2 separate regions of the Homo sapiens genome follow, and region 1 is linked to region 2. Evidence: fine-mapped expression QTL. A gene starts in region 2. The other region holds a variant in brackets. All regions are shown on one strand. Distances are from middle to middle. Region 1 overlaps ACAD10 (acyl-CoA dehydrogenase family member 10). Region 2 holds the start of PHETA1 (PH domain containing endocytic trafficking adaptor 1).

Region 1 (8,324 bases), 390 kb before region 2:
TGAAGTCATGCATGTTTCCTCTGCTATGAACTAGCTGCTCATGTCTCTGGCTCACTTTTCTATTGGATTGTTGGTCTTTCTGAAATTGATTTGTAGGTGCTTTATATGTATCCAGGCAATTAACATTTTGTCTATCATATATGGCACAAATACATCCTGCCAGTCATCTTTTTACTACTAAGTAACTGTAAGTAGCTATTTCTGAACTACTGTATATTCTGTGTCATTGATCTCTGTATGCGTGTGCCAGTATGACACTGTTTTCATCACTGTAGCTTTCTAAGTCTTCTTGTTTTTTTTCCCCAAGACCAGGGTCTCGCTGTCACCCAGGCTGGAGTGCAGTAGCACAATCACAACTCGCTGCAGCCTCGACCTCCCAGGCTCAATTGATCCTCCCACCTCAGCCTCCTGAGTAGTTGTGATTACAGGTGCATGCCACCATGCCTGACTGATATGGTTTCACTGCGTCCCTACCCAAATCTCATCTAGAATTGTAACTCCCACAATTCCCACATGTTATGGGAAGAACCTGGTGGGAGGTGACTGAATTATGGGGGCAGGTCTTTACTGCACTGTTCTTTTGATAGTGAATGAGTCTCACGAGATCTGATGGTTTTAAAAACGGGAGTTTCCCTGCACAAGCTCTTTTTCTGCCTGCGGCCATTTATGTAAGACGTGACTTGCTCCTCCTTGCCTTCTGCCGTGATTGTGAGGCCTCCCCAGCTATGTGGAACTATAAGTCCATTAAACTTCTTTTCTTTTTTTTTTTTTTTGAGACACAGTCTAGCTCTGTCACTCAGGCTGCAGTGCAGTGGTGCTATCTTGGCTCACTGCAAACTCCGCCTCCCAGATTCAAGCGATTCTCCTTCCTCAGCCTTCCAAGTAGCTAGGATTACAGACGTGCCACCACGACTGGCTAATTTTTGTATTTTTTAGTAGAGATGGGGTTTCAACATGTTGGCCAGGCTAGTCTCGAACTCCTGACCTCAGGTGATCCACCTGCCTTGGCCTCCCAAAGTGCTGGGATTACAGGCATGAGCCACCGCACCTGGCCTAAACCTCTTTTGTAAATTGCCCAGTCTCAGGTATGTCTTTATCAGCAGCATGAAAACGGACTAAGGCACCAGCTAATTTTTTTTTTTTTTTTTTGTAGAGATAGGGTCTCTTTATGTTGCCCATGCTGGTCTTGAACTCCTGGGCTCAAGCAGTCAGCCCACCTTGGCCTCCCAAAATGCTGAGACTACAGGCATGTGCCACCATGCCCGGCAGCCTCCTAAGTCTTAATAGCTTGTACTAATATTTCTCTTAACCAAGATCTTTCAGCCTGGAAGTGATGAGGTTGCACATGTGCCTTCGAGGGATTCCTCTGAGAACTGCATGGAAACTCAGTTGTAGTGGGGAGGCAGGCCAGAGGCAGAGAGATGAGGAGGGCTCAGTTGGCAGAAAGAGTGTGAAGGTGGAATTGACAGGTAGCTGTGTGGAGATGAGGGCGAGAGGAGTGGAGTGGGTGCTGAGGTTCTTACCATGTGCTATTCCCCAGGATGGGGGAGCCAGGAGCAGCAGTAAACTTGGTTGTGGGGAGGGGAAGGAGAAAATGAGCTGACTTATCCACATTCGCATACATCGATACAATGTGGGCAACGTGCTTCGTCCCTGTTGGTGTGCGTGGTGTGTGTCTCAGTGCAGGACACGCTGGTCCACAGGTTCGTTTATTCTGGTTTGTCTGTGGTCTGTGGTGCTCACCATAATCCTAACCAGCAGCTCTCTCATCCCTGGTGCCCTACTGTTGGTGCACCTGTTCCACCCATGTCCTGCCCTCTCTCCTTATGGAAATCTTCCCTATCAAGATCCAGCCCAAGTCCCATCTTCTGGGAAGTCTTTTGTGACCATAGTAGCCTTCCTTAGCTGCTTTTTTTTTTTTTTTTTTTTTTTTTGAGACGGAGTCTCTCTCTGTTGCCCAAGCTGCAGTGCAGTGGTACCATCTCAGTTCACTGCAACCTCTGCCTCCTGGGTTCAAGCGATTCTCCTGCCTCAAGCTTCCCAAGTAGCTGGGATTACAGGCATGCACTACCATGCCTGGTTAATGTTTGTATTTTTAGTGGAGACAGGGTTTCACCATATTAGCCAGGCTGGTCTCAAACTCCTGGCCTCAAGTGATCCACCCAAGTCAGCCTCCCAAAATGCTGAGATTACAGGTGTGAGCCACCACATTTGGCCTCAGCTGCTTTCACACAGTCCTCAACCAAATACTGCAGACCAAGATCACCTGGATGTGCTGAAACGCTATTGTAATTATGGCTCCTTGTGGCTCAGTCTCTCCAAAGAATGAACTAAAACTTAACTCTCAACCTAGATTTCACCCTGACAGTCTGAGGCTTTCCTCTCTTCCACGTTTCTTTCCATCTGTTTCCTGGTTCTTCATCGCCCCTTGTCTGTGGGCTCACTGGCAGGAATGGGGCCGGCAGAAGCACAGGCATTCTCATGGTGCTGAGACCTTCGGTGGAAGCACCTCAAGCCACTTAACTTCCTCTAAGATATTCAAATTCCTAGCTTTCAACTACTCTGAAACCTTTCATTGTTAGGGCACAACTGATGTGCTTTCAGGCTTTAAAAAACCCTAGTTCCACTTGCTCTCCAACAAAGGTTGTGACTGAGGTCTCCTTCAGGGTCACTGACTGGTGAGATTCTAGATGTTTGGTTGTTTAGTCCCCGTTCTGGGACACTGACTCTGTCTATGGAAGCTCTTTGTTGCTGTTGTTGCAAACAATGATGTTAGGTGAGGAATTTAAAGCCCCATTTTAACAGGAAGACATCTGGCTGGGGGCAGTGGCTCAGCCTATAATCCAACACTTTGAGGCCGAGGCGGGCGGATCATCTGAAGTTGGGAGTTCTAGACCAGCCTGACCAACATGGAGAAACCCCATCTCTACTAAAAATACAAAATTAGCCAGGTGTAGTGGTGCATGCCTGTAATCTCAGCTACTTGGGAGGCTGAGGAAGGAGAATCGCTTTAACCCGAGAGGCGGAGGTTGCGGTGAGCTGAGATAATGCCATTGCACTCCAGCCTGGGCAACAAGAGCAAAACTCCGTCTCAAAAGCAAAACAAAACAAAACACAGTAAGACATCTGCCCTCACAGGTAGGAGGAAAAATATGGTCAGCCCTGAGCCCCAGCTCTGCCCTCCTTGTTTGCATATGTACACACACACACATACACACACACACACACACACACACACACAATCTCTCTCTCTCTCGGACACACAGCTGGCTTGACACTCCACAGGCAGCCAGGGCCACAGGGCAGACACCCCCATCATGGAGCCTGACCCCCTAAGAGGCAGTCGGGGGGGCATCCCGGAGATTATTCTGGAAGCATCAGAAGCTCATGCACTTCTTGAGGGCACAGCACGCTCTCCTTGGTGACATGAGCCTCATCATCTTCCTCCTTTCCTAGGTGAGGAGGCCAGTACCTCACAGAGGTGATCTTAACGATCCATGCCATGGAGTAGAAAGAGCTCTGGGATCTTCTGAATTTAGGTTTGAATTCACTGACAAGCTGTGTGATCTTAAGCAAGTTGCACAATTCCTTTGAACCTCTGTCTCCTCATCTCTAGCAGGGGCAGAATAAAAGGATCTGCCAATTGTTATAGGGTTCAAAATAACTGGCCAGGCGCAGTGGCCATGCCTGTAATCCCAGCACTTTAGGAGGCTGAGGTGGGTCAATCACCTGTCAGGAGTTCAAGACAAGCCTGGCCAACATGGTGAAACCGTCTCTACTAAAATTACAAAAATTAGCCAGGTGTGGTGGTGCGTGCCTGTAGTCCCAGCTACTCAGGAAGCTGAGACTGGAAAATCACTTGAACCCGGGAGGCAGAGGCTGCAGTGAGCTGAGATCGTACCACTGCACTCCAGCCTGCACAACAGAGTGAGACTCTGTCTCAAAAAACAATAATAATAATAATATACAGATAGTTCTTGGCACCTGGTATGTACTAAATACCCAGTAGCTCTTATGATTCTAGCCAGGCGGTGTCTGCTCATTCTGCCTCCCCTGGGGATCAGGTTAGGGAAGTCAAGCCCTTCTCACCCTCGCTTCTCAAAGTGGGTCCCAAAACAAGGAGCATGACCTGCAAGTGTGTTAGGAAGGCAGGCCCACCGCACCACGCTCTGCATTTTAACCTGATC[G/A]CAGGGGCATTCCTTTGCTAGTTGAGTGTGAGAAGCATGGCATCTTATGTGGTCCAGGCTAGTCCTCAGCCCAGATGAGGCCCCACATTCTTGCACTCCAATGTGAGCACAGCCGCCTCCTCTTTAGCGGGTCCCGCTCCTGACTCCAGCCACACACGAACAGCTGGTGTGTGCTGTGGCTTATGGTAAGCCACACATCATCCCATTTAATCCTCAGGTGATTCTGGGAAGCAAGGACTGGTCTACTCATTTTTCAAATGAGAAATCTGGCCGGGTGTGGTGGCGCATGCTTATAATCCCAGCACTTTGGGATGCTGAGGTAGGAGGATTGCTTGAGCTCAGGAGTTTGAGACCAGCCTGGCCAACATGGTGAGACCTCTGTCTCTTAAAAAAAATTTAAATAAATAAATAAATAAAACGAGAGATCTAAGTCTCTAAGATGAAGGAACATTTCCAAAGGTTGCCCAGCTACTCTGTCACAGAGTCAGGATTTAAACCCATTTGAATTTGGGCCATTTGAATCTAGAGCCACAGTCCTGACAAAAATTCTCTCCTTGAGCACGCTCTCGCCAGCCTTCCTCTGAACTCCCATCTCCACTAGACCTCAAACTTGGCATATTAAAACTGCAGACTTTCAGCACAAATGCTTAAGTCCACACCCCCATACTCCCATGAAAAGACTTAAGTTACATGGTGTCCAACATCTCAAGACCACATCTGTGGGATGCCCGTACCTGCCTGAGAAAGCCCAAAGCTGCTGAAAGAAATTACTGTTTGTTCCAGCAACACTAGAAGATGGACCCTGTCCCCCAGCCTCCAAGGGAGGGCAGGAGCCTAACCCTAAGCGCCAGTTAGCAAACCCAGACAGGTGTCACGCCAACCACACTCCTTCCTGCTCTCTCTGGTTCCCCTTCCTGACTCTTGAGCCCCCCTCCCAACCACCACCCCTCCCATCACCTCCGCACAAATCCAAGTGGAGCTCAGTTCCCGCTGGGCCCTGCTCTCTAAAGCAATGGCTTATGACTGATTAAAACCTGTCCCTGCTGGGCACGGTGGCTCACGCCTATAATCCCAGCACTTTGGGAGGTTGAAGCAGGCAGATCACTTGAAATCGGGAGTTCAAGACCAGCCTGGTCAACATGGCAAAACCCTGTCTCTACTAAAAATACAAAAATTAGCCAGGCATGGTGGTGCATGCTTGTAATCCCAGCTACTCGGAAGGCTGAGGTAGGAGAACTGCTTAAACCCAGGAGGTGGAGGTTGCAGTGAGCCAAGATGGCACCAATGCACTCCAGCCTGGGCAACAGAGTGAGACTCTGTCTCAGAAAAATAAATAAAACCTGTCCCTACCACTTTAGTGTCCGCCTTTACCTCTGACAGCTCTTCACCACTGTGTCATCCGTCTAACACTGATAGGACAGAAAATCCCCTGGGCCATTTCTCCACTCAGTCAACTTGATTAAAAGAAACCCTGTCCCAGGTTACTTGCAGGTGTGGGCCCCAGGCCGCTGGAGTCCGGGACTCACCTGTCCCAACGCGCATCCATTTTGGTAAAATGGACGAAGGGGAGAAATCTGTACCTATGTCGCAGCAGGGAGGGCAGCAGAAATACCAACAAGAGGGGTCTCTGAGTGACAGCCTTGGCACGCCCGAGGCATCCCTGGGGAACTCTGAAGCCCTGGGTGGTGACCGACAACCCTGGGGGACTGACAATGGGTACAAGCAGCAGAGATCACTGGAGCCTGTTCTTTCGGTGTCACTCCCAGCTGCCGTCTTGAAGGGGCCCTGCCCAGACAAGTTGCCTGGAAGTGTCTCTTTGCAGCCTCTGTAGGATTGTTGTGGAATGATCTGACGGTATCTGAAATCAGGCCTTGGCGAGCACAGGTCTTGGCATCCAGACACCATCTGGCCTCCCGAAGTGCTGGCATTATGTGTGTGACCCGCGGCGCCCAGCCTGCCCTTTCTTCTTGTCAGGCAGGTTTGGCTGAGACACCTCTTCTGGAAAGAGTCCTCCCCTCAGCCTCCAGCCCCAGCAGTGCTTGCCCCATCACACGCCCAGGCCTCTGGGGCACTAACCGCCATCCCCTACTTGAGATGCAAACCCCCAAAGGCCAGCAGTTGTCCTGTTTTGTTTACTTGCACATTCCCCAAGGCCTGGACTCCTGCTGGGCCCAGAGCTGAGGCTCCCTCGACAGTGGTGGGCAGAATGATCTAGCAGAGGTGGAGGGCCTGGGGGGGACCTGCCTGTCTGCAGGCAGCATTCCTGGGGCCCCCGGGGTCTCTAGCCCTCAAGGCAGAGGATCTGAGGGAGATATGGGGGTACCCACAGCCTGACTCCCATTTTCCTCTCAGCAGCTGCGTTACTGAACAGGCAAGGTTAACCTCAGAGGCCACGAAAGACATTCTTAGGCCCATGAGACAGGCCAGGCCACGACCACTTCCTTTTTTTTGAAGAAAACCTCTCCTCCCGGAGCCTGAGGGAGCACTCAGCTGCTGCGCTCCTGCCAGCTTAGCAGTGGGCTCCTGGCCAGTGTGGCTGTCATTGTGACAGGCATTTGTTTGGGGTTTAACTTCCTTGAGCAACAAGCAGTTTCTCAAGTGTGGTGAAGGGGGACCTGCCTCCCCAGACCCCTGGGCATGTGGGTCTGAGGAGCCCATTCACGGGCCCCTCATGGTGCTGATCCTGGCTGGCCATTCTCAGGGAAGGCAGTTCCCACAGGGTCACCTCTGCAAGGTGGCAGCCGGGGGGGATGGTTCCTGCCCGTCTGGTCTAACCTGAGACGAGTTTTGGCTACCCCACCACGAGTTATGAGACGAGCAGGCTGGGGCCTCACTGCCCCTGGCTCACCTCTGCATGTCGCTGGGTTTCTCAAGGAGCTCAGACTGCAAGTGAGTAAGCATTTCCACTCTCCTCAGAGAAGAGAGATTGTGCTCCAAAGTGTAATGGCGAATGGGCCACCACCTCCCCTTCGCCCAGATATTCTGACTATGGAGCAGGTGGAGGCTGCAGGGGCCTCACATGCCAGCTCCTGGGTAAAGTATGTATGAGCACAGAGCCCCGGGCTACATAGTGAGGGAAGGCAGCCAACTCGGGACTTATCGGACCCGTGGCCTCTGTGCTCCCAGCATGTATGGGGCTGAGATGATGGCCTGGACCTCGAGGAAACACAGGCAGGAGGAGGCATGAAGGCGCTGAAGGGAACCTCTCCACTCGATTCTCTTTGTATGACACAGAAAGTCCACAAAGCCTCCGAGATGTGTTTACTTATTCTTCTGTGTCCCCAAAACCCCTTTCCAAAATAACATTTAAATGATTGTTCTGTGCTGTGTGTTCAAATGGAGATAATCAGATGCCAGTGGCTTTACAATGTGGGTTGCATTCCATTTTCCCAGGCGCCCAGGTCCTGGGTCTCTAGGCCACCGCCCGCCGTGGCCGCCCCTCTGCTCACCAGGGAGGCCAGACAGGAACCCTGCAGCTGCCAGAGCAAGCACGTCCCACAGCCTTGGGAGGCCTCCCAAAATGTGTCCAGATTCCCACAGGCAGAGAGAGAGGGACTGAAAGGCTGAAGTGAAGTGACCGTGCCTGCCCAGCCTGGGACTGAGAGCCTGAAGACCAGCTTTCCAGACTCTGTCCCAGAACCCCCTTGGCCCTCAGCAAATCCCCTCCTCCTGGCCTGAAACAGACTCCAGGCTTCTTGCAGAGACGTCTTCTGTGGAGAACCAGAAAGATTGAGTCCACCCTGACTGTCCCGGGACAGAGCTGCTGAGCAGGGTGCAGGAGCCACAAACACCGGATCTTTCGAGGCACATCAGTGACAGATCTGGGCACAGCTGGACCAGCCAGGACATTGAGCCACTGCAGCCCCAAGGCTCTAAATGCGGTGCTTCAGCTCTAGCTTGGCCACCGTGGCCCGGTGCACCTCGTCAGGGCCGTCGGCAAAGCGCAGGGCTCGGGCCCAGGTGAAGAACTGAGCCAGTGGGTAGTCGCTGCTCAGGCCTGCTGCTCCAAAGGCCTGGCAGACACAGAGTGGAGGGAGGCGGCCCTGGGTCAGCCCTTGTCTCCGAGAGCCCCAGGAATGATAGCCTGCTCTTGATGGCCCATAACAACCATCTTCCCGGACTTCCCTGTGGCACCTA
Region 2 (8,324 bases):
AAGGTGGGCAGATTACCTGAGGTCAGGAGTTCAAGACCAGCCTGACCAACATGGTGAAACCCTATCTCTACCAAAAATACAAAAAATTAGCCATGTGCAATGGCGTGCACCTGGTGCCAGCTACTCAGGAGGCTGAGACAGAAGAACCGCTTGAACCCAGGAGGCGGAGGTTGCAGTGAGCTGAGATCACACCACTGCACTCCAGCCTGGGCAACAGAGCAAGACTCTGTCTCAAAAAAAAAAAAAAAAAAAAAAAAAGAAAAGAAAAGAAAAAAATAAGAAGTAAATTGTAATAGAAAGAAAAGCCCATTTTCTGGGGAGAAATTCAAGCCGGCTGCAGAAATTTGCATTACGTAGCAAGGAGCCTAATGTTAATCCCCAAGACCATGGAGGAAATGTCTCCAGGCCATGTCAGAGAACTTCCTGGCAGCCCCTTCCATCACAGGTCCAGAGGTCCAGGAGGAAAAAGTGGTTTTGTGGGCCAGGCCCTGGGTTCCTGTGCTGTGTGCATCCTAGGGAGTTGGTGTTCTGTGTCCCAGCTGCTCCAGCCATGGCTGAAAGGCACCAACACAGAGCTCAGGCTGTGGTTTCAGAGGGTGGAAGCCCCAAGCCTTGGCAGCTTCCATGTGGTGTTGAGCCTGTGGGTGCACAGAAGTCAAGAATTCAGGTTTGGGAACCTCTGCCTAGATTTCAGAAGATGTTTGGAAATGCCTGGATGCCCAGGCAAAAGTTTGCTGCAGGGGCAGGGCCCTCATGGAGAACCTCTGCTAGGGTGGTGCAGAAGGGAAATGTGGGGTTCAGAGCCCCCACACAGAGTCCCTACTGGGGTACTGCCTAGTGGAGCTGTGAGAAGAGGGCCACCATCCTCCAGACTCTGAAATGGTAGATCCACTGACAGCTTGCACTGTGTGCCTGGAAAAGCCACAGATACTCACCACCAGCCCGTGAAAGCAGCCAGGAGGAAGCCTGTACCCTGCAAAGCCACAGGAGTGGAGCTGCCCAAGATCATGGGAACCCATCTCTTGCATCAGCGTGACCTGGATGTGAGACCCGGAGTCAAAGGAGATCATTTTGGAGCTTTAAAATTTGACTGCCCCACTGGATTTCAGACTTGCATGGGCCCTGTAACCCCTTTGTTTTGGCCAATTTCCCCCATTTGGAACGGCTGTATTTACCCAATACCTGCATCCCCACTGTATCTAGGAAGTAACTAGCTTGCTTTTGATTTTACAGGCTCATAGGCAGAAGGGACTTGCCTTGTCTCAGACAAGACTTTGGACTGTGGAATTTTGGGTTAATTCTGAAATTAGCTAAGACTTTGGGGGACTGTTGGGAAGGCATGATTGGTTTTGAAATGTGAGGACGTGAGATTTGGAGGGGCCGGGGCAAAATGATATGGTTTGGCTGTGTCCCCACCAAAATCTGAACTTGATTTGTATCTCCCAGAATTCCCACGTGTTGTGAGTGGGACCCAAGAGGAGGTCATTGAGTCATGGGGGCCAGTCTTTCCTACGCTATTCTTATAATAGTGAATAAGTCTCACGAGATCTGAAGGGTTTATCAGGGGTTTCCGCTTTTGTTTCTTCCTCACTTTCTCTTGCCACTGCCATGTAAGAAGTGTCTTTCACCTCCCGCCATGATTCCAAGGCCTCCTCAGCCATGTGGAACTGTAAGTCCAATTAAACCTCTTTTTGTTCTCAGTTTCGGGTATGTCTTTATCAGCAGTGTGAAAACGGACTAATACATATATCCATTAAATATATATCTATACTTAACCACTTCTCTCCACCTCCACTGCTCCACTCTAAGCCACCACCATCACTTGCTTGGACTACTGCAGTAGTGTTCTCCCTGATCGCCTGGCTTCTACTATCATTCCCTGCCCATAGCAGTCAGGGACCATGTTAAATCTAACACAGACCATGTCCCTCCTCTGCTCAAAACCCTCCCATGGCTCCTCATTCTTCTTAGAGTAAAAGCAAAATCTTTCCTCTGGTCCTTAAGCCCCTAGGTCACCTGGCTTTCTGGCTTTGCCAATAATCTCTGATCTATTGTGTTTTTTTTTTTGTTTTTGTTTTTTTTTTGTTTGACAGAGTCTTGCTCTGTCACCCAGGCTGGAGTGCAGTGGTGCAATCTCAGCTCATTGCAACCTCTGCCTCCTGGGTTCAAGTGATTCTCCTGTCTCAGCCTCCCAAGTAACTGGGATTACAGGTGTACACCACCATGCCTGGCTAATTTTTTTTTTTTTTTTTTTTTGTATTTTTAGTAGAGACCGGGTTTCACCATGTTGGCTAGGCTGGTCTCGAACTCCTGACCTCAAGTGATCTACCTGCCTCGGCCTCCCAAAGTGCTGGGATTATAGGCGTGAGCCACTGCGCCCAGCCAGCTGACCTATTTTCCTACTATTCTTCCCATTGCTCACTTGGCTCCACTGGTCTCCTCGTTGTTCTTCAAACATGCCCAGGATGGCCCCATTTCAGGGCTTTTGCACTTGCTGTTCCCTCTGCCTGGGACCTCCTTCTCCCAGATAACCACATGGCTCCCTCCCTCATTCCTCCAGGTCTGTCCTCAGAGAGGCCTTCCCTGACCACCTTGTCTAAAAGCTGCACTTCCAGCTTGGGCAAGATAGCAAGACCCCCCCGATCTCTACAAAAAATTAAAAAAAATTAGCCGGGTGTGGTGGTACACACCTGTAGTCCCAACTACTTGGGAGGCTGAGGTGGGAGGCTCGGTTGAACCCAGGAGTTCAGGTTACAATGAGCTGTGATTGTGCCACTGCACCCCAACCTGGGTGACAAAAAAACACAAAAAACAAAAAACAAAAACAAAAAAACTGCACTCCCAGGCTTTCTGCCCCATTGCCTTAGCGTACAGTCCTAGCATGAATCACTTCCAGAACTCATTTGTGTTGTCTTGATTCCTGGCTGCACCTGCTTACCTGGTTCAGGTACAGTGCCTGGCACACAGTAGGCGCTTAGTGAGAGGCTGTACAATGGAGAGCTGACCCTGGTCTGTCCTGTTCTTCCTGCTTTCAGGCCAGGACTTAATAGTGATTGGGAGGTGGCGGGTGGTGGAGAAGAGGCGGCAGGAACAGGAAGGAAGGGTTCAAGGAGGTGGGCAGGGCAAAAACAACAGCAATTCCTATTTCTTGAGAGCTTTCTGTTGTGCCGTGCACTTTACATATCATGATGGTCTTTATTTTCCGGATGAGGAAACGGAGGCTTAGAGAAGTGAAATGATTTCTCTAAGCTCACACAGTGTTCAGTGGCCTAGTGCGACTCGAACTCAAGTCTGCCTAATTCCAGAACTTCCTCTCTTCACCTGGAGCCAGGGGAAGCTTGCGAGGCGCCCTGTCCGTATGGAACAGTGCTGTACGCAAATGTCCTGGATTCAGCTGTTTTTTCTGCCACTCACACATTTTTCAGGAATTAGAGCTATTTTTCTAATTTAACTGGGCATTAAATTTGCTAAACCTGGCAACCCAGGTTTAGCAAATATTTTTATTATTTGTAGAGATGGTGGTCTCCCTCTGCTGCCCAGGCTGGTCTTGAACTACTAGGCTCAGGCAATCCTCCTGCCTCGTCCTGGGGGGAGTTCGGACTTAAGCCTAGGACTTCAGCGAATGGCCCGCCCAGGACCCCCAAATGCTTTTGCAGGCTAATCCACGACCTGGGCCAGTCCTTACCTTTGGAATCGCAATGAGCTTCCCGGGCTCCAATCCGCTTTTCTGGGCTAGGGAACTGGGGAGTCGCGAGCCAGGAGCGGACCCTTTAAGAGTGATTTCGAGGGCGGGCTCACGGGGGCGTGCCGGTTCGGGGCCTGCCAATCGGGAGGTGGGAAGAACGCGGGGGCGGGCCCGGCGCGAGCAGGCTGGGAAGGGTTAAAGGGGCGCGCCCGTGGGTCGCGGACTGTCCGGTTGCTCCCGCCTCCTTCCGTCGGATCCGCGCTCTCCCGCGGCTGCGCCGGCCCGGCCGCCCAGGAGACAAAGCGCTGCCGCCGCCGTCGCCGCCACCGGGCCAGTCCCGAACCATGGCCGGGCCACCCCGCAACCTCGCGCCTCCCGTCCCGTCGCCGCCCTAGGCCTGCGCTGCGAGGTAAGGCGGGCCTGGCGGGGGGACATGCACGAGGACATGGGACCCGGGTCGGGCCGCCCTGGGCCTCGGGGTCCCCCGGCCACCTGGAGAGCGCGTTGCGGGGATCTTCCCCGCTGGGACTCCGCACCAGTGGTGACTTCTCCAGCTGCCGAGGCGAACTTGGCCAATGACCACCCTCCCCTCTCTCAGCCCATAGGGACGTCTGCCGCTGGTGGGGACTGCGGATAAGCCCCCCATTCTGCCGCTGATCACCCATCTGGGGCTCTGGCTGTCCTTTAAGGAACTTAAGAGAGCTCCCACGCACAACACACAAAGGGACAGAGAGCAGCCGGGAGCAGGGCCACACCTGGAGCAGCAGCCCCTGCCGTGGACAAGGGGGCTGCCTGTGTCTGGACGGCGGTGCTGGCGTGTCTCTGGGGTCCCTGCTGGGGCGGTGACGGCCAGGCTGCTCTTTAGTGTTCTTGGCACACATGTTTTTCAGCCTGTGCCTGCCACACCCTCTTCCCCACGCCCGCTGCTGGGGGACACTGAGGGCAGCTGGATTCAACCCCAGGACCTGCGGTACTGGCTTCTTTTCGTTGATGTGAGTGCCAAAATGCCATGCTTCAGTCTCCCAGGAGACCTGGGTTCCGGGGCCAGCTGTGCCCCTGGAGATCTTGGATGAATTATTTGCCTTTTTGACAGCTCTTTCCCTGAAAGCTCACTACCCACCAAGTATTTTGCAAAATGACTCTTCAGGAGTCAATTCACTCAGCCCTTAGAGGGATGGAAGTTAACGTCACCATTTTGCAGATGAGGCTGAGAAAAAACTCCGACTCACAGCAGCTAATATTTGCAATCCATTTCCCATAGTTTGCCAGTGGGTTTTCCTTCTTTTAGCTCATGAACCCTCGCCACACAGCCCAATTTAACAGATGAGGACACTGAGACTTGGAAAGGTGAAACGACTTGTCCAAGGTCCTCCAGCCTGGACCTGCGGAGGCAGGAACTTTGCCTTGGGAGCAGAGCTGGGCCAGGCTCCCTCCAGCTTCCTGTCTGGCCATGGGCTGTTGAATCAGCAGCAGTGCCCACAGTGGACTCTGAACTTCTTGGAAAACAGTGTGGGGAGATAAGGCAGGGGCCAGGCCTTCGCTCCAGGCAAGGCTGGCGCCTGTGCCCCTGCAGCTTCCTGTCTTCCCAGTTCTGGTGGAGGCAGGGGTCATGGGCAGAGCTGGGTCCTGTGCCTGCTGGTGACCTTGAACCAGTTTGGCCTCTATCTAGGCAGTCGGGGGAGGAGGGTTGCTGAGCAGGAGGGAAGTTGCTATTCCTTTGGCCTTGATGGGGTGGAGAGACCCCAAGATCAGCCCCTTTATTTGGGTGGCTTGCCTGGAGCATGTGATTCTGGGCACAGTTGTATGCCTCTAGCCAACTTATTGAATCTCCCTGTGTCCATTTCCACATCTGTGAATGTGGGGTGAGATCCCTTGTCTTGGGGCTGTTGAAAGGTTTCAGAAGATACTGCAGAATGAATCAAACAGCTGTGTGAGTACCTACTGCATGCCAGGCACTAGAATTCAGACCACAAACGCCCCTGCAGGCAGAAATGACCCAGGTATTAATTTCAGGTGGAGGCACAGGAGAGGGACTGGGGGGCCTCTTGTGCATAGGGTGGCCAGGGACCACCTCTCTGAGGAGGTGACAGCTAGGCTGAGACCAAAGGATGGGGAGCTGGCCTTGTGAAGACCTGCAGGCAGACAGCCGGGACCAAGTCTTGGAGGTGGGGATGTGTCTGGTGTATTTGAGGAACAGAAAGGAGGCCAGGATGGCTGGAGCTGAGTGAACAAGGGGGAAAGAGGTAGGGAAAGGGAACTTGGAAGCCAAGGGAGGCTTGGATTTTTTTTTTTTTTTTTTTGAGACAGAATCTCACTATGTCACCCCCCAAGTTCAAGGGGTCCTTCCATGTTAGCCTCCCAGATAGCTAGGACTAGAGGCTTGTATCACCATGCCCAGCTATTTTTTTTTCTATTTTTTATAGAGATAGGGTCTTGCTATGTTGTCCAGGCTGGTCTCTAACTCAAGCAATCCTACCCCCTCAGCCTCCCAAAGTGCCAGCATTACAGGTGTGAGCCACCGCACCCTGCCTAAGGATTTAATTTTATGCTGAGAGAAGTAGGGAGCCATGGGAGGGTTTAGAGCAGAGGAGGAGTGTGATTGGACTTAATTTTCACAGGATCCATCTGTGGGAAGTGGATTTCAGTGTGGCTCGGAGAAGAGCTTAGGAAGGAGGCTTGGATCTTACCTTGAGGAACATGGACAGGGAGGGGCAAGGAGACTTATGAGGAGGCTACAGCAGCCATCCCAGTGAATGGTGATGGGGCCTAGAATGGGGAGGTGGAGTGGACAGATTAGGCAACTGATTTGGAAGACGCTGGAGAGGGGGATCAACTGGACTTGATGTGCGATCAGATGCGGGGGTGAGAGGGAAACCAAGGGCCATTTGCTGAGATCGGAAGCACAACACAGGGATGTTTGGGGAAAAGCCAAGAAAAATGTGAACTGCAACCGCGCTCAGCAGGCACTGTGTGCCTGGCCCCATGCTCCGCAAAGTCCATATAGTCACTGTATCATTGTCACAACAGCCCTGACTTAGGCACTGTTACGATCCCATTTTACAGATGCAGAAACAGAGGCCCAGAGAGATGAATAGCCTGCCTGGGGTCCCCCAGCCCAGATGCTGCAGAGCTGACATTTGAATCCAGAGAAGAGCGAGCTGAGGCTGGAGCTGAGCAGAGGGCAGGGAGGCAAGTGGTGGCCTGAGAGGTAGGAGCGGAACTGGGCAAGCAGGGCGGGAGGGTCCTGTGAGAACCGGGGCCAGCATCCACATGGGAGTTGATGGGTGGTGGTGTGGGGAATGCGTGAATCCCTGCGGCTTAGAGAGGGACAGCTGTAGCTGAGAGGCAGGGTGGGGATTCAACACCTGGAGACTTTGGGGGCTCTGGCCTTGGCCTCCCACTAGGTCAGGACAAACTGACCTCAGTTTCTTTTTTTATTTTAAGTTCCATGATACATGTGCAGAACATGCAGGCTTGTCACATAGGTATACGTGTGCCATGGTGGCTTGCTGCACCATTGACCCGTTCTCTAAGTTCCCTCCCCTCACCCCCGATCCCCCAACAGGCCCCGATATGTGTTCTGCCCCTCCCTGTGTCCATGTGTCTCATTGTTCAACTCCCACTTATGAGTAAGAACATGCGGTATTTGGTTTTCTGTTCCTGTGTTAGTTTGCTGAGGATGATGGCTTCCAGCTCCATCTATTTCCCCGCAAAGGACATGATCTCATTCCTTTTTATGGCTGGATAGTTTTCCATGGTGTGTATGTACCACATTTCCTTTATTCAGTCTATCATTGATGGGCATTTGGGTTGGTTGATCTCAGTTTCTAAGTCACAACTCATGTTCCGTCTTCTAGGAAGCCTTCCCTGACTGCCTATGTGGCTGACAGGAGGTGGCAAGGACAACCCCCTCCACCCTAGGACAGGTAGTCTGGCAGGGCCTCACTGCGGTCACCTGCTCCCAGGAGAGCCACCACCCTGACCTCATTCCACCAGGCTCTGAGAAAGACACCACCCAGGCAGGGGAATGAACACTGAGTGCCTACTGCGTACCAGGACTTTATATCCTTTGCTTCTTGAAAAATGTAGCTACCATCCTATGCAGGCTGAGGCTCTGCAGTGGGAGATAAGGCAGGCTCTCAAAATGGCCATGGAAAACCCCAAGGGAAGGTGGCCAGGCCAGGGACGCAGATGCCACCTCCCGACAAGTCCTTCCTGGCCAGCGTTGCCCCATCATATACTCCTTGGGGGAAGGTGGATGGGGTCACTGTGGCCGATGGCATGGAGTTAGAGTCCTCTATGCTAAATGGCACGGGTCGACCCCCTGCCCCTCCTTCCTGTAAGTCAGCCTAGCCCTGGGCCTGCATCTTTCCCCAAATTCTTTCTTTTTTTTTGAGACGGAGTCTGGCTCTGTCCCCAGGCTGGAGTGTAGTAGTGCAATCTCGGCTGACTGCAACTTCTGTCTCCTGGGTTCAAGCACTTCTCCTGCCTCAGCCTCCCAAGTACCTGGGATTATAGGCACCCCCCACCATGCCTGGCTATTTTTTTTTTTTTTTTGAGATGGAGTCTTGCTCTGTCGCCCAGGCTGGACTGCAATGGCGCAGTCTTGGCTCACTGCAACCTCCGCCTCTTGGGTTCA

The links. PIP is the estimated chance that this variant, and not a neighbour inherited with it, causes the effect.
Region 1: its variant is fine-mapped to the expression of PHETA1 in whole blood (INTERVAL, PIP 0.92).

What each region holds. Positions count from the first base shown.
Region 1 is chr12:111,756,209-111,764,532 of GRCh38, reverse strand. ACAD10 (acyl-CoA dehydrogenase family member 10) reads right to left here. Exons shown (of 21, transcript NM_025247.6): 21 at 7,434-8,200. The coding sequence ends at 8,060. Among named protein-coding and RNA genes, the nearest start is that of ALDH2, 6.6 kb to the left of the region's middle. RefSeq lists enhancers at 2,334-2,869, 5,649-6,288, 6,289-6,930, 7,572-8,213. The variant G/A (reference allele first, on the strand shown) is at 4,188.
Region 2 is chr12:111,364,682-111,373,005 of GRCh38, reverse strand. It overlaps PHETA1 (PH domain containing endocytic trafficking adaptor 1), which reads left to right and starts at 3,911. Exons shown (of 3, transcript NM_144671.6): 1 at 3,911-4,094; 2 at 6,749-6,893. It overlaps LINC02356 (long intergenic non-protein coding RNA 2356), which reads right to left and starts at 3,745. Exons shown (of 4, transcript NR_187522.1): 1 at 3,686-3,745; 2 at 936-1,037. RefSeq lists a silencer at 3,741-4,320.